Linked DNA regions of Homo sapiens. The protein of the gene in region 3 interacts with the protein of the main gene of each other region in a pairwise test. Each region holds a gene or a part of one and is shown on either strand. Other genes may lie near its edges.

Region 1 (7,238 bases), on a different chromosome or scaffold from region 3:
CAACCATATCTCACCTAGAGGGCGTTTTTGAGGGTTAATTAGTTCAAATTTGCAAGTGCTTGGAAAAAGAAGTGTGGTATATGGAGAAGAATTGAAGAAATATACACTTCATAAACACTTCAAGCAGCTAGCCCCAATATTTCTCCCCCCAAAAATAATGCTAGTTCATTTTTCTGTCATTTATTTGCATCTATGAGACTTAATAAAATATTTCTTTTATTCTTTTAGTATCAATATTTTATCAAGTCTTTCTATTCTTAACAAATACAAATTGCATTTTCACCAGAACATTCCTATAGCTCAATCGCTTGAAAAATAGAAATAGTAAAAAAAATTACATGGTCCTAATTTATCAAGAAGGAAATAAACATCATATTGCTTTCGGTCCATTTTCAAGCAGTGTATAAAATATTGGAAATGGTTTGTGTTTTATACATATTTACTTTAGATTAAAATAAAATTTTCATAATGCTCTCTAAAATACAATCCAATTAAATTTCTAATGTCTTTGTTTTCACATTTCTAGATGAAACCTCTGAAATACTCACACTGTAGTAATAACCATAAAGCTACCTTGCTAAGAAAATACTACTCAACTTAGAAATAATAAGATCTTTATAGTTATGTGAGAATGCATGAGTCCAGAATCTTTAGTGGGTGATTACACTGGTTGAGTTTGAATTGCCTCCCCTGTTGTGGAAGACAGCTCCATAGTGAAGATCATTCTGAATGGCACTCTACTGGTGAGGGGGTAGAATGAGGCAGACATCAATCTAATTTGAGAAAGTAGAGTCCAGAGGGTTTGAGAGATCTACCCAAAGTCATAGAGCCGATAGCTGAAGTCCCCAGATCTTCCTTTTTCAATAACCTTTATTTCCTTGATGGATGCTTCATTCACAGGTAATTCTTAGCCTTCTGCTAAAGCTGGAGCCAATTTCTCAGCAATAGCCAAAACATTTTACTTAGACATGGCCCAGTGTATAGAAACTCACAGTTACATAAAACTGGTTATATATCAGAGACTATGCTAAGAACTTTTATACATATTATCTGTTTTCCTCTTCACAAGAACTCTGTAAGATGGATTCGATTAATACTCCCATTTTACAGGTGAGAAACGGAAAAACACAGTGGTCAGGCAACTTGTTCAAGGTCACATATCTAAGAAAGTGGTCAAACTGGAAACTAAAATTGTCTACCTAACTAACTTGAAAACCCATATATTAAACCACTTCACCACACTACCTCTCCACACCAACAGGAAAAAGCAAAACATGATGAAAGTCCACATTTGTTATTTAAAAACAGGCACATTTCTATGTCTGATTTAAAAAGATGGTTGCATGCACACATTGGCAACATGAAGTATTTCTGAAATACGAGTTTAAATATGGGGAACACAAATTGTAAGTACTTGGTACTTTAGTATCTAGGGATAATGATGGTAGCTTTTTATAAATCCATATGTCCTTTCTACAAGTGAAATATCCAACAATGTTTAAGATACTTGTGAAATTATTTTTGCACAAGTATTAGCTACTGTTTGTAACACCCTATTAAGAAATTGTTGCTGACAACAGCTAGGACTGAAGAGCCAAACCAGTTCTTCAGTGATGTTGGTGATGTTCTTGTGGCTGACAGAATACTTATTTCCACAGGTAGCTGTTATAGATTGTGTGTTTCCCATTCAGTTACTCCAAGCTTGTGAAGGAGAGTGGGCGGAGAAGACAACCTGTAATTCGGGATGGTTTGGAAGCTGGTTGCCTAGGAAACTGAAATGAGCAGCGTAATGCCCACTAAAACCAATGTCTACAGGGGATGGGATTTTCCTTTTTGATCCAAGTTGCTTTCCAAATATATATTCTATGCTGCTTGTGGAGCCCAGTTAGGCCGTTGGCCCTTGGTGGGCAGTTCATGCCAAAGTAGACCAAAGGTTTGTCAGGGAGGATGAGAGATTTTTCATAAATGTTGTGATGACAAAATATTTGAGAGAGGGAATGACGGTGCAGTTAAAATGAACTTGTAAGAGAATAAGGTGATCAGCAGATGCATATTTTACATGATATAATATGCAATTCTTGATCATAACATCTGCATCTAAATTTATGGCAGCAAAACTTTTTAAGCATAATTTTATTTGCTGTAATCTACTGTTCTCTGTTCTTATGCTACTCACACTGGAAGCTTTGCTTTATGGTAATCATCTTCAAGAGTAACTTTTGGGATTCATAAATCTTTGATGAAAATCATAATTAATTTCCTAGTACTTTATAAATATGTACATTTTTATTAGTAAATGTAACATACATATCCACACATATATTTTAGGTATCTATATATGTGTGCATGTATATTTAAGTTGAACCATATAAAATTGCTGATATTAGACCACATAGGACTTATATAGTTTATCTTATAGACAAATAGAAGAGATCATAGGATACATTTTTGACAGGGGGTAGCAGTATTTTTTGTTGTTTTGCTTGGGTCTCTCATTGTCTCTTTTCCCATCTTCACTTTTCCCTGTCCTACATCAACCCCATCCTACTCTCACTTTATTCTTGCCCCATAGGCAATCCACATTAACTACCTGGCATGTATCCTTCACACTCATTATAAATTATATGTCAATTATGTATGTATGTATGTCAATTATAAATAGATCTGTACATCCGTATTTGTACTAGAGGCAAAGTTCGCATGGAGGAATCTCAAACTTCCAGATTGTTTATTTCCTGTTGATATCTATAGCCAAATATTCTCCTTCCTGATTTGAAAATATTGCTTATCTCTTTTTTTTGTACTCACCCTTAATGAATTTCAGGCTGATTTAAAGTAGTTTCCTCATTTTCTGACATTCATTCACTTGAATTCTATTTCTCTTGTCTGTGCTAGAAACTATTCACAAATGATTCAAGCTGTGACATATGGCAGTGTGTCACACAGGTGGATTAGTAATTCTTTTCTGGTTTTCTACTTTCGCCTCCACAGAATAACTGATTACTTTGTAAGGTTAAGAGTAAGAATATACGAGAAAAAATACATTGGTTTTTATTCTGCTAACAGTAGACCCAGGATTTCAATGCCTTCACTTGCAAGGAAAAGGCTCCCCCAGAGCCTCTTAGAGGCTCCAAACTGTGTGAGCAAAGTTAAGGATCAGTAAGAGTGGGGTCATATGAGAAGACCTTAGAATTTATGTTATAGATGAGAGTGTTTGAAATCTTAAGATAATAAGAGGTACAGCTACACCACAGATGTGATAGGAGACCTAATAGTCTCATTCTGAACCAAAGGTGACTTCTCCTGTCACTGCCTATGACAATTGGCATTGAACCCCATCCTCCTTTTAGAGCACAATATTCATTTTATTAGGCCATTGTGAGAGATCTCAGCTCAGCATAATGGGCAACTTCCCGTGACTCTGGGCCACTGGGTTATTCTGGGACTTAACTACTCTGAGTTTTCTCACTAGAAAGTTAGTGTTCACACAAGGAAAAGGCAACAAGAACCTGGTGGTCTGGGGTTTACTCCTGTTCTCCAGTCTGCACAACCCCCTCTTTCTCTACCGTTGTGTACATCTTTATAGGTCTTGAAACCTTTTGCCCACACACAAATGCCTACTGTTTGTCCAGGCTCTTGCCATAAGGCTATAGTTCTTTCTCTTATTTGGGAAGGAAAGTGCTTTGTATGAAGTAAAATGCTGATTCCTAGGAGTTGAGGAGTGTGAGGTCTCCCAGGAGCAACTCAGAGGCTTCCTTCCTCGGAGCTGGAACTGGCATGCCTGATAGGGTTTCCTTGGGTGAATCCTTGATCCTTAGTAGAGGGTACCTTGGCCAGGAAGAACAAAGCTCACTCTGGTTCTTGTATTTTGGAGGGCTGTTATTTACGTAGAAGCAGAGTCTGTCCTTCTCTTGCCAATCAAAAGGATTTCAAAGCTGCTGTACCAAGAACTGTTTTCAGATTACTGGTTTCAGAAACTATTGACCCTTGTCCTCCCTTTCAATAGTGAAATCCCAAAATGGTCCTAGGAGAGACAAGTAAATTCTGACAGCTGCTTAGAGGTCATCTTAGAACTAAATTCCAAAGAAATAATTTTAGGCTGATAAAGAGTCCAGAAAAAGGAGGAGGGAGAGAAAAAGAAAGAATTAGTTTAGTGTAGCGAATGGTAGCTATTTGCAGCTCACCCACGTGTGCTCCGAAGGTCAAAACCCTACATCAGCAATTTGTAGCAAGCTCTTGAGCTCCTCTACCTCTTAGAAAGCACAATTGAATCAGATATCATATGAAAGACATACACACTTCATGTAATGCTACCTGCAAGTCTCCCTAGAAAAGCAGTTTTTGTAGGTGAAAACAATGAAGCCAGGTAATATTGCAAGGAGGCTGTAATTTTAGCAGACCTACCAACAACACTGATGTAGGAAGCTCATTATTTTAATTTCTGGAGCCTTTTAATTTTTTCTTTAGAAAGTGTATAAATAATTGCAGTGCTGCTTTGCTTCCAAAACTGGGCAGTGAGTTCAACAACAACGACAACAACAGCCGCAGCTCATCCTGGCCGTCATGGAGTTTCTTGAAAGAACGTATCTTGTGAATGATAAAGCTGCCAAGATGTATGCTTTCACACTAGAAAGGTAATAGATGTCTGTGTCTGCTTCACAATTTTCTCTGTTGAATATCATCCAATTCCTATACCTTGTTGCTTCTGAATTGTAGGCCTTTACTCTGCAACTTGGGGGCACTCTGGAACATTTTATAAGTTGTTGACTGACATGTATTTTATATTCTGAAAAATGCAATACTTTATATAGTTGATTTGATTCCTTAAATATCCTAAGTGCATAAAGAACACATTTTACTGATGTGTTTTTCATCTGTCATGTTTATTCCAGAAAATAGACCTATATAATCTGTTTACTTTTCCTTTTCTCAATTATTCTCAATTTTAAGATAGATAGTAAATTTTATTATATTATATTTAGAAAAAGTTAAGACTTCAGCTACATGGCAAAATTGTGGTTGTATTGATCTTAAAATGAGCTGTTGTTTTCATGCTTATAAAGTATCATTATTAATATACATACCTATAACAAATATAGCTGATTTTAATGTTCTACAAAGTATTCCATTTCTTTTTAATGTCTCCCACAGTGTCACATGCAATACATTCATTCATTTTTCACTTGGTTAACAATTATTGATTGAACACACCTGTAGTAAGTGCAGAACTTATAATGAGAAAGAAAAAAATGTCTAGTTTCAGATCTTTGTCCTCTTGAAACTTAGTCTAATGTGAAATACATATTAGAACTAGGCAATTACAAAACAGTGTATTTGTGTCATATTGAGGGTGTTCAATAAGAATAACTGGACTTTGGAATCAGAGGAAGCTTTCTCAGAAGTAATAGGCTAAGAGCTAAAAATAAAAAGGAATTAAAGTAGGGTTAGGGATAACCTACATAGAAAATAGTTTTAAGGAAAGTTTCCCAGACTTCGATAATTGCACAGTAAATATACTTTCACATACATAAGAATGTGAGCTTGGTTTGTTTGAGGAGTTGAATCTGAATGGGGTTCAAAAAAGGAACACATTCAGTGAATATAAATGAGCTAATGAAAATCTGAAAAGAATTGATGTTAGAAGAAGAATTTAAGAGAATACTTGCCCATTAATAATACGTGTAATGTTCTTGTTTGTTTCACAAAGCCAAACTAATATTCTAAGGAGTAGTGATACTATGTTTGGGAGCATCAAATATTTTAGTAACAGCAAAGAGATTTTATAAAAAGGATATTTATAACTTGGCTTAAAACAAAGAATCTAGCAATCTCACATTAGAAGAATTATTTTTCTTAGAAAATAATATTAGATATGATGTATTGAGGTTATTAACATAAAAAACAAAGCCTTGTGGTAAGTCAGGCAGAAGTTTTGGACAAAAAATTGTTAACCCTATGGATACTATCAATAGAGCATCTCCACATTACTGAAATAACAATATTTCCCTTCTTATTAACATAGACTATTAGCATTTTGTTGCACAAATAAGCCAACCACTTATAGTTACAAAGTCTCATTCACCCCATAAATAGGTATGGTTTTCAGGACACAGTGTTTATAAGAATTGTCAAACTCATTTGTATTTTCTTGTCAAGGGAAATAAATTAAATCTGGAAGAGATTATTTATCTCGATCCCTCATTTTACCATGTAGGAAACTGAATGCCAGATAGAACAAATGCCTTTCTTGAGGTCAGAATAAATGTGTTTCTTGAGGGCAGATGGCTAATTACAACAGAACTGGGCTGTGGACCCAGGCCCCCTTCTTGTTAATTTAGTGTTCCCCTTCTCCGTCTACATCTCCTGTACCCATACATGCACCATGTGGGCTCCTGAATCCTTAATCTATCTCCTCCTTAGGTCACATGTCCCTGAATTCCCTCACTTACTCACTTCTTCCCCCACCTCTACCAATCTATCTCATTTATTTTGTTCTGTCTCTATTAGTTGTGGATAACTTTATCCCCTGATATTCCTCCTCTTTTCTCCTTCTACCTCTTTTTCTTTCTACTTTCTATTATCAGCTTTCTATTTAAATGGTTACTGGCTGTTAAGAAACTTACTCTGAAGAAAACTTTATTATCTAATTCCACAAATGGAGTGTTCCATTTATCTATGGCTGTGCAACAAACTACCCCAAGATGTAGTGGCTTAAACAACAACTATTTTATTACGATTCTCTGGGTCAGGATTTGGGCAGCATTCCATGTGAATTAGTTGGAATAGAAGGCTGCATTCTGCTGGTATCTGGGCTAGGCTAGAAGGTTTAAGATGGCTTCACTCACATGACTGAGATCTTTGTGTTGGCTTTTGCCTGGGGCGGGGGTCTTAATTCTTCTTCCCATGGCTTCTCTCCCTGTATGATGTCTCACTTTATCTGGTTAGCCTGGAATTCCTTATGTGACAGTCCAGAGTAGCAAGAGAGCAATAGTGGAAGCTGACCATTCTCAGATAGCTTAAGCCCAGAACTGGCACAGTATCATTTTTATCACAATTTATGGGTTAAAGCAAGTCCCAAGTCTCAGATTCCATGGGTGAGGCAATAGATTCTATCTCTTGATTGCATGTGCATATTGGATGACAGGAATTGCTGGAGGTAATCTTTACAGGCATTTTACCACAGGAAGTAGTAATATTGGACCCAGTAGGTGCCATGAACCATATTTTTTTACCCTCTC
Region 2 (7,026 bases), about 150 Mb from region 3:
ATTTGACAAACAAAACTCAGAGAGGGGATGGGACTTACCCAAGGACACACAACAGTTCAGCAGCAGAACTGGGACTGGAACCCAGCCCTCCTGACTCCCTTCTAGGGCCCTTTACTTTAACCCAGGAGACCTGGCCACATTCGGGACCAAGACTGTTTTGGGCCCCAGGTTTCTCAACCTCTCAGTCTTTCAAGCGGCTTCATAGAGTTGAGCTCCTCCCCAGCCTGGACAGGTGGTGCAGCCTCCCCTGCCAATGTTTTATTCTCCCTTCCTCTGGATTGAGCCCTCGCTGCCATGGCCACCCCTCCTGGGAGCTCTTGCTCCTGAGAAAGAAAACAGGCCGTTTGTTTGGAAGAAACAAGCCACCTGTTTGGTTTCCCAATACCAGGCCACACAGCCCTGTCCCTCCCAGACAGCCCCAAGATGCTGACCAGAGATAGCCCTCTGAGGGTCTCTGCTGAGCTCCCCTGACCCTCGACTCCTCCCCTCAGCTCCCGTCTCAAGACTGCTGGTTGGTCCTCACCTTCTGTCTGTGGTGTTTACTTGGGCGGAGCAACCTAAAGTCTCCACATTCTCTCTTGCCCTGGATTTATCAGACTTAGCAGCCCTTAAACCTGAATGCGTAGCTTCAGATCTTAGAATATCGGGGCCAGAGGGATCTTAGCCATCAGAAAATCCACTCTGCTTATTTGACAACTGGGGAGACCAAGACCCAGGGAAGAGGAGATTTGCCTGAGATCACAGCCAGGACCAGAACCCGAGGTTCCAGAGTTTGTCTTGAATGATTTTGAGGATGATTCTTGAAAAACAAAACAGGGCACCCTCCCCCTCCAAGATCCCCTTTCTGTCTGCACTTCACACTACCAGGTGTTTTTGTGGCATCCGTGGTGACATGGTCAGGAGGAGTAAGGGCCAAGGGTCCTGAAAGATGAGGTGTGCACATTGAGGAGTGTGTCTGCGCATTTCCAGGTCCTGTCTGTTCAAACTGGCATTAACACCACGGCATGAGCTAGTGAGTGCATTTATCTGGCACTCCCTTAGCCAGACTTGATAATGTGTCTTTGGATGGCAGGCTTTTAAAGTTGTCTTCGTCCACAGATTACAAAAGAAGTAGGTGCTCCTTGTAAAAACGAGCAGATGACATCGTGAAGGCTGGCGACCACTGTTAATATGGTGGCGTTTTATTCAGGTTTTTGTTTGCTGAGCTGTTTCATGTCCTGGTTTGTTGTTGTTGCTTTTGAAAAAATAGAGACAAGGTCTCTGTGTGTTGCCCAGGTTAGTCTTGAACTCCTGGGCTCAAGTGATCCTCCCACCTCAGCCTCCCAAAGTGCTGGGATTCCAGGCAAGAGCCACTATGCCCAGCCCGTATCCTGGTTTTTCAACTCGTCATTACAGTGCCTGTTATCTTCATGAGATAATGTGAGTGACTTCACGCAGGATCTAACCTGTAGGTCTCACGTGCTTCCACCCCTTGATGGCTAGCAGGTATTCCCTTGGCCAAAACCCTGTGACGCTGTGCAAAGTGCAAAGACGTTTCCAATTCACCACTGTGGGAGTCCAGAGGGCCGTTTTTCTGCATCACCATGGGGTTTGGGAAAGCAATTCTCTCTGAACTCTTAGAAATGGAAGCCACGGGCCATCTGGGTGTGATGCGTGTGACCCAAATTCATACAGAGGGAGGGAGACAGCTTTGTTTCTTCTGACTTTTATGTGTTTATTTTTGCTGTGTTTGTTTTAACCCATCCAAGTGCCGCCACCCCACCATCACTGCCCCTTGCCCCAAATCTCCCTGGGATTAGGCATGGGGTTAGGCAAGTTGCAGGTCTCTAGAAAAATCGGTATTTGGCATGCTCATCTCCAAACCCTGGCTCTTGCAGAGTAGGCGTTTCAATAGCAAAGATGTGCAGAGAATTTGTTTCCTAATCGGTGATTCAGGTAGGACACCCCATTCTGGGAACAGGATGGGGCGGGGTCTCTGTCTCTCTCTACCAGGATCACAGCTTTGTTAATGCCATAAATCATCAGTACTGGAAGTACTCGTATCTTGGGGATTTTCTAAGCTCATGTTCACAGAATGGACAGCCACTTACTAGTGGATTTGAGCATCGTTGAGTGGTTTTCCGCTGGATTTTTAAAAGTGAAGTAGAAGACAGTGGACTAGAAAATAGCATGCATTTCCTGTCACGAGAAATATTCCTTAGTAAAACTTTCAGTTATCTGTTTGTGGATGTGCACTGAGTCACTAGGTAAAAACGTCTCTCCTCCTGCATGGTAAGAACCTTGCGCAATGTAGCTCCGGTTATACTGTGATCCTGGGAAACCTTGGATGGGTCCTAGAAGCAACTCAGGGGTTTGCAGGGACAGAGCTGAGTGGTGGAGGCAGGGCCGACAGGAAGGAAGCTCGGCTTATGCTAAGGATACAAAACATCCACTTTTAAAACTCTGTGACTTTAAAAATAAAACAGAAAGTTGGAAGCCATTGTTCGTCTAGCCTCCTCAATTCCTAGAAGAAACTGAGGCCACAAAACAGAGGCTGGGGCCTTTGCTGCAGGGGAGGTAGCACTCAGGCCTCACATTGAGGAGAATCTGCAGATGTAGACCCTTGACCCCTCCACAAATGAGCGACTCAAAACACACGTTCACGGTGCAGCCTGTGACCCCCATAGGCCTCACTGTTGCGTGCACTAGGAATTCATGTTTATCCTAAAGCCTGTCGCTCTCGTGCCAACAACCCAATTTATATTGCTGAGATGCACAAAGCATTAATTTTTTCAATGCCACATTTCAAACAAAGAAGAGTTAATAACCCTGTTCTGGCATTTCTTTTTTTGTTTTGTTTTGTTTTTTGAGACAGAGTCTCGCTCTGTTGCCAGGCTGGACTGCAGTGGTGCAATCTTGGCTCACAGCAACCTCCACCTCCCAGGTTCAAGCGATTCTCCTACCTCAGCCTCCCTAGTAGCTGGGACTACAGGCATGCGCCACCACACCCAGCTAATTTTTGTATTTTTAGTAGCGATGGGATTTCACCATGTTGGCCAGGATGGTCTCGATCTCTTGACCTCGTGATCCGCCTGCCTCGGCCTAGGCATGAACCACCACACCTAGCCTTCTTCTTTTTTTAATGTCCCCAGAGCTTTACCAATGGAAGCTTCCCAGGCCCATCCCCTGGCCTGAGAGGCCTTTGAGATGATAAGCCCAGGGTCACCAAATCCTGGCAGAACCTGGCAGAATGAGAACTCACCACAGGGAGCAAGTTCTTTTTTTTAAGATCGTGGACTCACATGATGTGCAGTTCTGGATGTCTCCAGGAGGTTTTGCTATTTCCTCAACAGGTAAAATTAGGTGGCTCTAAATCTTGGGCAATTTTATGTCTTTTCCATGTTTTTCTCCTCACATGTGGTCTAGGGAGGGGTGTAGAGAAGCAGGTGGAATTTACTTGCCTTACCTTATCCTACCTTTTCCTGGAACCCACAGGTTGGGCCTGTGCTGGTTAGGGTGTGGGGCATGATTTGTTGATATTTGGTGAGGGAAAATGACTTTATTTTATTTTATTTATTTCTTTTGAGACAGAGTGTCACTCTGTTGCCCAGGCTGGAGTGCAGTGGTGCAATCTTGGCTCACTGCAACCTCTGCCTCCTGGATTCAAGCAATTCTCTTGCCTCAGCCTCCTGAGTAGCTGGGATTACAGGTGCATGCCACCACGCCCGGCCAATTTTTGTATTTTTAATAGAGATAGGGTTTCACCATGTTGGCCAAGCTGGTCTTGAACTCCTGACCTCAAGTGATCCACCTGCCTCAGCCTCTCAAAGTGCTAGGATTACAGGCGTGAGCCACCACACCCAGCAAGAACATGATTTTAAAAAACAAAACAAACACTCAAACTTTCTTAAGTTACCATAAGAGGCCTCACATACAGCTTCCTTAAAACTGCCTGCAATTTGGAGAGAAGCAGTTAGGTACTGGAACTGCCTGTGGGTAATTATTGTTTTCAAACAGTGACAGATGCAAATTCTCTTCTTTTGGGGGAAATTGCCTGTAGCTAAACACCGGCGCCATCACTTTAAACAAATCTCCTGATACATATGGTATGCCAGGCGCTGAGCCCAGGAACGAGGGAGAGTCAGCCCCCGCCCCCCACCCCGATGGAGCTGATCCCCCACGGGAGGCAGCAGGGATTGTACCTTAACAACATGTGAATAAAGATGAGGAAGCACAGCCCGTGAAGGAGGAGGCTTAACCCAAACTTGGAGAGTCAGGAAGGATTTTCAGAAAGAGTGCAGTCTGAGCTGAAATGGGGAGCGGGGAGGGCAGGTGCAGCCGCCACCGCCAAAGGTCTTCCTGGTGGAGGCAACTGCCTGTGCAAAGGCCTCAAGGTGTAAAAGAGCTTCGTTAACACAGGCCAATACTGAGTGTAGAAACGCTGCACTCAGGGCAGATGCTGAAGGCAGAGGTGGAAAAAGTATTTTATATAGTTTCTTCTTAAAAGTCATTTTGGGGGCTGGGCATGGTGGCTCATACCTGTAATCCCAGCACTTTGGGAGGCCAAAGCAGGTGGATTGCTTGAGGTCAGGAGTTCACGACTAGCCTGGCCAACATGGTGAAACCCCATCTCTACTAAAAATAGAAAAATTACCCGGTATGGTGGCAGGTGCCTGTAATCCCAGCTACTCAGGAGGCTGACCACAGGAATCGCTTGAACCTGGAAAGCAGAGGTTGCAGTGAGCCGAGATCGTGCCACTGAACTCCAGCCTGGGCAACAGAGTGAGACTCATCTCAAAAAAACAAAAGTCATTTTTCTCAAAAAATTAAAATCGAATAACCATAGGATCCAGCAGTTTCACTTCTGGGTGCATACTTGTCTTAGTCCATTTGTGTTGCTGTAAAGAAATACCTGAGATTGGGTAATTTATAAAGAAAAGAGATTTATTGGCCGGGCGCAGTGGCTCACGCCGGTAATCCCAGCACTTTGGGAAACCGAGGCAGGCAGATCACGAGATCGAGACCATCCTGGCCAACATGGTGAAACCCAGTCTTTACTAAAAATACAAAAATTAGCCAGGCATGGTGGCGGGCACCTGTAGTCCCAGCTACTCAGGAGGCTGAGGCAGAAGAATGGCTTGAACCCGGGAGGCGGAGGTTGCAGTGAGCCGAGATGGAGCCACTGCACTCCAGCCTAGCGACAGAGCAAGACTCCATCTCAAAAAAAGAGAGAAAGAGGTTTATTTAGCCCATGGCATCTCAGATGCATCAGCATCTGCTTCTAGTGAGGGCCTCGGGCAGAAGGACAGCAGGCGTCATGTGGTGAGAGAGAAGAGGAGAGAAGGAGTGGGGAGCAGACTCTTTAACAACCAGATCTTTGGGCACCAAGCCATTCAAGAGGGATCCACTCCCAACAACCAAACACCCACTAGGCCCCACCTCCAACATTGGGGATCAAATTTCTCTTCTTTTTTTGAGACAGTCTTACTCTGTTGCCCAGACTGGAGTGCAGTGGCACAATCTTGGCTCACTGCAAACTCTGCCTCCTGGGTTCATGCGATTCTCATGCCTCAGCTTCCCAAGTAGCTGGGATTACAGGCATGTGCCACCATGTCCAGCTAATTTTTGTATTTTTAGTAGAGATGGGGTTTCACCATGTTGGCCAAGCTGGTCTTGAACTCCTGGCCTCGAGTGATCCACATGCCTCGGCCTCCCAAATTGCTGGGATTACAGGCATGGCCACCGCATCCAGCCTGGGGATCAAATTTCAACATGAGATTTGGAGAGGACCAATATCCAAACTATATCAATGCTCAAAAGAATTGAAAACAGGTTTTTGAAGAGATATTTGTACACCCATGTTTATATGAGCATTACTCATAATAGCTAAAATATGAAAACAACCCAAGTATCCATCAAAGGATGAATGAATAAACAAAATGTGGTCTATCCATACAGTGGAATATTATTCAGCCTCCATGTGGAAGGAAATTCTGACACCATGCTGCAACATGGACGAACCTTGAGGACATCATGCTAAGTGAAATAAGCCAGTCACAAAAAGACAGATACTATATGATTCTACTTGTATGAGGAATCTAGACATCATAGAAATGGAAAGTAGAATGTTGGTTGCCAGGGGCTGGGGGAAGAGGAATGGGGAGTTAGGGTTTAATGGGTAAGGGGTTTCAGTTTTGTAAAATGAAAGCGTTCTGTGAATGCATGATGGTGATGGTTGCACAGCAGTATGAATGTACTTAATGCCACTGAACTGTTCATGGAAAAATGGTTAAGATAGTCAACTTTATGTTATGTGCATTTTATCACACTAAAAAGTTGGTGGGTGGGGGAGTCATTTTGGAAACAAGACTCAGATAGTCATTTGGCCATATCATTGCGTTCTCTCTACAGACCAGGTGTTCTTCCAGGCTTTGGGGGGAAACGGTGCCTAAGACAGGCTCAGTTCCTGCCCTCTTGGAGCTTACACCTTATTAGGCAGCAGGGAGGAGTCAGTCAAGTAGGAAACCAACAAGTAAAATAACAAATCAATAACATGTCAAATGCACTGATCTGAAATCTTTGCCCCTTCCCTATGCTGGCAGGATCAAGCCAAAGCTAAGCTCTTTAACTTTCAACACTATAAAGCCCGGACTTCTTAGAGTCAGCCTCTGTTAATCTTTTCAGACCTATTACTGCTGCCTTACCCCAACTTCAACTGCATCAGTCACAAGGAACTACTTTCCACCCCCACCTACCTCGTACCCCTGCTCAAAGCCAGGAACTTTGGCGGCTTTTTTCCTTCCTGTTCTTTCTGCTTTTCTTTCTAGACTGCCCAGAGGCTTTAGAAAACACCATAATTTCAATTCTAGAAGTTTATCCTAAGAAAACAGTTAATGAGTATAAGGAGTTAGTTTCGAGACTGTTATTTTTTGTAATAATAGCAACAAAATTAGAAAGCCATTTTGTTTTTAATCTGTCCAGAGATGGTCCTAGCCACGACCCTTTAAATAAATTTTTGTTTAATTTTGGAATAATTTTAGATTTATA
Region 3 (7,384 bases):
GGTTGCAAGTTCTTTTACATTCACACTTGGTCAGGGAAGGAGGAAGCTGTTGTTCCACTTCTCATAACTGGACTCAGTGAAAGCAAAACACTTCTTTTTGCCAAATTATGAAAACAAACTCATAAAATGTCTGTAAATTCATGACTGCTGGAAGCTGTGCTAGCATATTGTTTTTGGAAATTAGAGTAGCTAAAATGGTACCTGGATGGAATTTGTAGGCAATGCGCTCACAGGCAGTCTGACTGGCAGTTATTCACAAAGGTCCCTTTCACTCTGTGATGTGGAGAGAAGAGGGGCTCTTGCCAAGAATAATACTAAGAATTGTTCAGAAAAACAGGATTGGTAACCAGAAGAAGGTAAGAAAGAAATACTGCTTCATTTCCACACTTTAAAATTAGATACTATTCATACCTTTCTTGTCCCCAGAATCCTTTATAAAAAACATAAAACCTATACTTTCAGAAAGAAGTCCATTGAAACTAAAGACTTAAGGTGTATTTATGAAGATGAGGTATCAATCACAAAATTCAACGTGAGGCTATAATTAGATACTGCCATGCAAATTTTATAACTACCTAGGAGAGGTAGGAGAAATAGAACTAGTCACACCTTTATGGTTTGCATTAAAGGAATAAAGGTTTTAAAAAGCACTCTCTTCTAGTGACCTCTTAAAGAGATTTTAAGAGCGCCTAATTCAACTTACCACACAAAATAGCAATTTCCCCACAGAATCCTCCAGTTCTACCAGCCCCCAAACCATGAAAAATATGAGACAATCAAATCAGTACCAATATTTTAAAGGAGGCTCTGACCTAATCAGTAAACACTAAGCTGAAACAGCCTGCAAGATGAAGTTAGTCGGCAACAAAACATTTCCTAGGAATTCAAGACTCTGGAAGTGCCATACAATGATGTTATAAACAGAAATCTCACTCAGAAAGAGGAAACTGACCAACTGACCAAAGTATTTTAAAACAAGAACGAAGCACCTATTCTTTTTAAATTAGATCCAACAGATGCCTCAGCATAACACATTAAAGCCCTTCTCACAGTATCCAACACAGACGTTCACCATTTTAGGTTAAAAACAAGCTCAGCATTTATGTTTGCAAACTTTACTAGTCGTCCACTGTTGAGGGTCAGCCCACTGCTTCGTGATGATTTTCGAGACAATAATATCTGCATCATCCCACTGTCAACACTCCACCCCTCAAGAGTCTGCAGGGAGAGAAAGTGTCTGCCTCTTAAGCACCAATTGTTCATAAAGGCTTGTTGACAGTCTATGGAAATAAAGCTTTAAATAACGAGGGTCAGCTACCTATGAGTCAGACCTTTCTTAGGCCCGGTCTGAGGTTCCACTTGAGATTCATAATAGAGGCTAGAAATCAAGAAAAAAAAACCCGTGAAATTACTCTGAGCCTTGACCAATTAATAAAGGCAACAAATTAAAAAGAACCCACCAACTTGTTTTGAAATATCAAAAAGTTAAATTTCAGTGACTCCAACATTCGATCCCATAGAATTACTCCCTCAAGGTGAAGATTCAGAGAGCAATCTTACATTCGGAGATGTCATGCTAAGTCCCAGTATCACACAAAACAAAACCGAATAAAATCAGCAACCACAAACGTGGGTGAAAGCAGCTTGCTGAGAAAGAAGAACTTGCTGAGAAACCAGAAGAAACACTGATTAGTTTCCAGTTGGCCATATCATCTTAACATCCTCATTTCACAGATGGGGAACGGAGGCTAAAGAATACACCAAAAAGCGAAGAGAAACGTTATTTTGTCATCCAAAAAGGAAAACAAAAGCTAAAAGCACCCTAAATAGAAATGCAGCATTCTGTGTGGTTCTACAACATAGGACATTAGTGGCCAGGTTTCAGCACGATCAAAACTTTTCTAATAGGCCGGGCGCGGTGGCTCATGCCTGTAATCCCAGCACTTTGGGAGGCAGAGGTGGGCGGATCACTTGAGGTCAGGAGTTCGAGACCAGCCCGGCCAAGATGGTGAAACCTCGTCTCTAGTAAAAATACAAAAATTAGCCGGGTTTGATGGCGGGTGTCTGTAATCCCAGCTACTTGGGAGGCTGAGGTGGGAGAATCGCTTGAACCCAGGAGGCAGAGGCTGCAGTGAGCCAAGATCGCGCCACTGCACTCCAGCCTGGGCGACAGAGTGAGACTCTGTCTCAGAAAAAAAGAAAAAAAAGCTTTTCTAATAAAACAAACCAACACGCAGGCAGTCTCCTGAGGCGCTGGGTGTCTAGAGACTAGTTGTGGGCAGTGTGGACAGAGACACAAGATGTGGTCCCTGTCCTCATGGGATGGGGGCAGTTTCTCACCCCCAATCACAAGGCAATGTGTACAGGGGCGGGTGGGAGTGTCACACCCTACAACCTAAACCGGACAGAAAACCAAGGCAGAGCTCGGGGCGCGGCCACCAGCCCCGTCGCGAGGTAGGGACCGCCACCCCAACACCCCAGTCCGGGTCTGGGGCCCCGACCCACCCAGCAAAGGCTCCTTCCGCCTGGACCTCGGGGCCCCCAGCCCTACCCGGCCCTAAAGCGCATTCCCCGGCCGGTGGGGCCGGGGCCGACAGCCCAGTCGCCCACCCTCCCACTCGCAGCTCAGTCCGGGGATTTCCTCCTGCGCCGCCCCCTTGTCAGGGAGGATGGGCTGAAGGGGCGCGGGGCAGAAAAGGACGCCGCGGCCACTGCCCCGTGTAGTGCCAGACCTCTTCGCGGAGCCCTGCAGAAGAAGAGGAGGAGAAGGGGCAGAGCTACCGTCCAGAAACTCCAGGGAGTCCCCGCAGGCTTCCCAGGCCCGGGCAGGGGACGCAGGGCGGGAGCGCGGCGAGAGGGGGCCGACGGCCCCGGGCTCACTCACCTCGGACAGGCCGCTCCGGTCCTCCGTGTCCTGCCCGCTCAGCACCTTCTTCAGCTTGTCCATTGCGGCCCAGTCCCCACCAGCTCCAGCTCCTCAGCGGCAGCCTGTTGCGCTCGCTAAGTTGACGGCTCTTCCGGGTGCTAGGCAGCCGCCCAGCCGCCCAGGCGCCAACCGCGGCGCGCCCCGCCCAGGCACCTGCCCACCGGGGGGCTCCCGGCATGCCCCGCGCGCCCGCGCTCGCCTCCGCTTGTTTTGGTCCCGGGGGGCGCGGCGGGCCGGAGGGGCTGGGATTGAAGACCACCAGGCGCTGCCAAACACTAATTCGGCGTCCAGAGCAGTTTCAAACCGGAACGGGCCGCGCTCCCTCGCCCTACTTGATCCAGTCAACGAATGCCGAGCACCTACCACGTGCAAGGCTCCGGAGACACAAAGACGGGGGAGAAGCCTTGTGCAGACGGGAACAAAGGCTGTGGTTCATCCATATTGCGATCGTGCCTACACAGGAAAAGATTTTCTTTTTAATCACTCAAGGCCTTAGTCTGGTGTGGTGGGGCGTGCCTGGAAGCCCAGCTACTCCGGAGGCTGAGGCAGGAGGCTCACTTGAGCCAAGGAGTTCCAGGCTGTAATGAGCTATGACCAGGATACTGCACTCCAGCATGGGCAACAGAGCGAGACTCTGTCTCAAAAAAAAAAAAAAAAAAAGTGACTGAAGGAATGTTGAAAGGAATAATAGATTGTTAAATTGTTTTGTGTTTGTACAATTGTTTTTTTTTCTGACCTTAAAAAAACTAAAAGTAGACTGGGCATGGTGGCTCATGTCTGTATTCCCAGCACTTTGGGAAGATGGCTTGAGCCCGGGAGTTCCAGACCAGCCTGGGCAACATAGGGAGACCTCATCTCTTCAAAACATTCTTAAAAATTAGCCAGGCATGCTGGCGGGCATCTGTAATCCAAGCTACTTGCGAGGCTGAGGAGGAAGAATGGCTTGGACTCAGGAGGTCAAGGCTGCAGTAAGCCATGATTGTCAGTACAGTAAGCCACTGCACTCTAGCTTGGGCAACAGAGTGGAAACAATACAAATGGCCACCAACTGATTAATGGTAAATAAAATGTGACATACCCATGCAATAAAAAAGAATGGAGTACTGACACATGCTACAACGTGGATGAACCTCGAAAACATTGTATTAAGTGAAAGAAGTGTGGAGCCCGAAAATTTGAGACAGGTCTCAGTTAACCAGGAAGTTTATTTTGCCAAGGTTGAGGAACAGCACCTGTGACACAGACTCAGGAAGTCCTGACGACATGTGCCCAAGGTCGTTGGGGCATAGCTTGGTGTTATACATTTTAGGGAGACATGAGGCATCCGTCAATATGTGTAAGAAGTACATTGGTTGTGTTTGGAAAGGCGGGACAACTCGAAGCAAAGGCAGGAAGACTCAAGGGGGGAGGGGGCTTCCAAGTCACAGATAGGTGAGAGACAAATGGTTGCACTCCTTTGAGTTTTTGATTAGCCTTTCCAAAGGAGGCAATCAGATGTGCATTTATCTCAGTGAACACAGTGATAACTTTGAATAGAATGAGAGGCAGATTTGTTCTAAGCAGTTCCCAGCTTGAATTTTCCCTTTAGTAATTTGGGGGGGCCCAAGATATTTCCCTTTCACAGAAGCTAGACACAATAGACCATATATTGTATGATTTCATTTATAGGAAATGTCCAGAATAGGCAAACCCATAGAAACAGAAAGTAGACTAATGGTTGCCTAGGGATGGAGGAGGGGAAATGGTAGTAAGAGACTAATGGGGTGATTTAAATGTTCTGGAATTAGATTGTGGTAATGGTTGCATGCACAGCTCTGAACATACTAAAAACCATTGAATTGTATGCTTTGAATTAACTGTATGGCATATGAATTCTATTGCAATAAAGCCATTTCAAAAATGCTTAGAACAGTGCTCAGTATATATTTCACAATCCATTAATATTATCTATTGTAAAATGTAACAGGCATCCACTCTTATCTTTCTCCAATGTGTCTGAGTCTGAACCCAGAATATGGGCTCCTGATTTACCTACATTTATATTTGCACATTGTGCAATTGGCCCATTACAAGGTGATTCATTGTAGCATTGTTTGTAATAGAAAAAAATTGGAAACAACTTAAAAGTTCATAAATGAGGGAAGTGCTTAAATAAATTATGGTACATTCATTCACAAGAATACTAAGTAGTCATTAAACACAGAAGAATGAGGAAGGTTTAATCAATGTCTTCAGAAGGTTTTTTCTGACTGTGCCACACCATCCCTTGAAGGATCTTTGTAAACATAAGTCTGACTCATTTGTTGCCCTGCTTAACATCTCCCACAGTGTGGTAAACTGAAAAATGTTCCCCAAAAGATACCCATGTCCTAATCTCTGGAAAGTGTACATGTTACCTTAGACAGTGAAAAGTGGAGTGGGGGTGGTATTTTGTGCAGGTAATTAAGGATCTTAAAATAGATTATGCACAATTATCCAGGTGAGCCATAAATGCAATCATGTATATCCTTATAAGAGGGAAGCAGAGGGAGATTTGACACCAACAGAAGAGGAGAAGGCACTGTGACCACAGAGGCAGAGATGGGAGTGATGCAGCCACAAGCCAAGGAATGCCAGTAGCCACTAGAAGCTGGAAGAGGCAAGGAAAGGATTCTCCCCTAGAGCCTCCAGAGGGAGCATAGTCCTGCCAATAGCTTGTTTTCAGCATTTCTGGCCTCCAGAACTGTGAGAGAATCCATTTCTGTTGCCACCAAATTTCTGATATGTAACAGCAGCTGCAGGAAACTAATGCCCATGTTCCCTACCACCTACAGATAAATTGCTGCTGACTTCTCAGCAACACATACCTTCCTCTTTGGGTTCATCTCTCTCCTTTCTCTCACATACTCCAGGCTCCAGGCATAGGAGACTGTAGTTCCTGAACTCATTGTGTTCCCTACCTTGTCCTGGAAAACACCTACTCTTTTCCATCCTTGTCCCTTTCCCTTCCCCTAACACACAGTTCTCTCAAGTCACCTTATTCTTACCTCCACCATAACACTTAGCACAATATGCTCCATTTGTTCACATTAGGGTCCCTATGGGGCATAGATCTTATTTGTCTTTCCATCCCCAGTGCCAAGCACAGTGCCTGGAACGTATAGTAGGTGCTAAATAAATAGTAACCTACTCTAGTCATTGGCCAGGCGCGGTGGCTCATGCCTGTAATCCCAGCAGTTTGGGAGGCTGAGGCAGGTGGATCAGGAGGTCAGGAGTTTGAGACCAGCCTGTCCAACATGGTGAAACCCTGTCTCTACTAAAAATACAAAAAAATTAGCCGGGCATGGTGGCAGTCGCCTATAATCCCAGATACTCTGGAGGCTGAGGCAGGAGAATCACTTGAACCTGGGAGGCAGAGTTGCAGTGAGCCGAGATCGCCCCATTGCCCTCCAGCCTGGGCAACAAGAGCGAAACTCCGTCTCAAATAAATGAATAAATAAATAACCTACTCTAGTCACTGGTCACATTCTCATTCCCCACTGTGCAATGCAGATGCAAACAAGTCCTCAAGGCTGAGTGATGTACTCCCTCACAGCCTTTCTGTACCTCTGTTTTGCCAGGATGAACAAACAGGAAGCTTTAGATGAAATTTTATGTGCGCTCTATTAAATTTCACCCTCCTCTCAGCAAAAGCTAAACACAAAAAAAGTTCTTACAAAGTCTCTTAGAAGTGTGTGTGCAAGGAAGCTCTAAGGAGTTAGCTTCCAAGGAATAGGAAGTAAGGCAGTTCTCTGAGCATTATTAATGCATGAAATTAACACAGAATTCATCAGGGTGGACATATTCCTACTTGGTTATTAAGAAAAAGCCCTTAGAAAATCATGATTGAATACCTTAATGTATCTAGAATAGGAAAAGGAGAAGGAAAGGAAGGCCATTCCTCAAACTGGTTAATCCTAGGGGCTAGGAAAAGGAGACTCCTAAGGCAGTGTTGGCAAAGCCCATTTAAGCACAGCACAGGTCAGACATAGTTCTGGTGTCTGAGTCCCACATGAAGCAGGTTTATCCTTATCACAATTGTAAGAGCCTAGGCCACCATGCAAATCCTGAACTTTCTTCCTTTTTTTTTTTTTTTGAGATGGAGTCTCATTCTGTCACCCAGGCTGGAGTGCAGTGGCACGATCTCGGCTCACTCCAACCTCCACCTCCCAGCTTCAAGCGATTCTCCTGCCTCAGCTTCCCAAGTAGCTGGAACTACAGGTGTGCACTACAACACCCAGCTAATTTTTGTATTTTTTTAATAGAGACGGGGTTTCACTATATGTTGGCCAGGCTGGTCTTGAACTCCTGACCTCAGGTGATCCGCCCACCTCGGCCTCCCAAAGTGCTGGGATTACGGGCATGAGCCACCGCATCCAGCGTATTCTTTTATTTTGATTTCTTACATACCAAGAAGGCTTCTCCATTATAAAATCTGCT

Evidence for each region. Proteins that work in one complex are often made in the same cells at the same time.
Region 1: the proteins of SFT2D2 (region 3) and SLC30A8 interact in binary tests that used the Homo sapiens proteins (3 or more experiments, as listed by UniProt).
Region 2: the proteins of SFT2D2 (region 3) and TMEM51 interact in binary tests that used the Homo sapiens proteins (3 or more experiments, as listed by UniProt).

The regions. Positions count from the first base shown.
Region 1 is NC_000008.11:117,130,765-117,138,002, forward strand, and holds the start of SLC30A8 (proton-coupled zinc antiporter SLC30A8), read left to right. Parts: upstream 1-4,230; 5' UTR 4,231-4,563; coding exon 4,564-4,634; intron 4,635-7,238. UniProt on the Homo sapiens protein: Proton-coupled zinc ion antiporter mediating the entry of zinc into the lumen of pancreatic beta cell secretory granules, thereby regulating insulin secretion.
Region 2 is NC_000001.11:15,156,729-15,163,754, forward strand, and holds part of TMEM51 (transmembrane protein 51), read left to right. Parts: intron 1-7,026.
Region 3 is NC_000001.11:168,221,643-168,229,026, reverse strand, and holds the start of SFT2D2 (vesicle transport protein SFT2B), read right to left. Parts: upstream 3,024-7,384; 5' UTR 2,948-3,023; coding exon 2,885-2,947; intron 1-2,884. UniProt on the Homo sapiens protein: May be involved in fusion of retrograde transport vesicles derived from an endocytic compartment with the Golgi complex.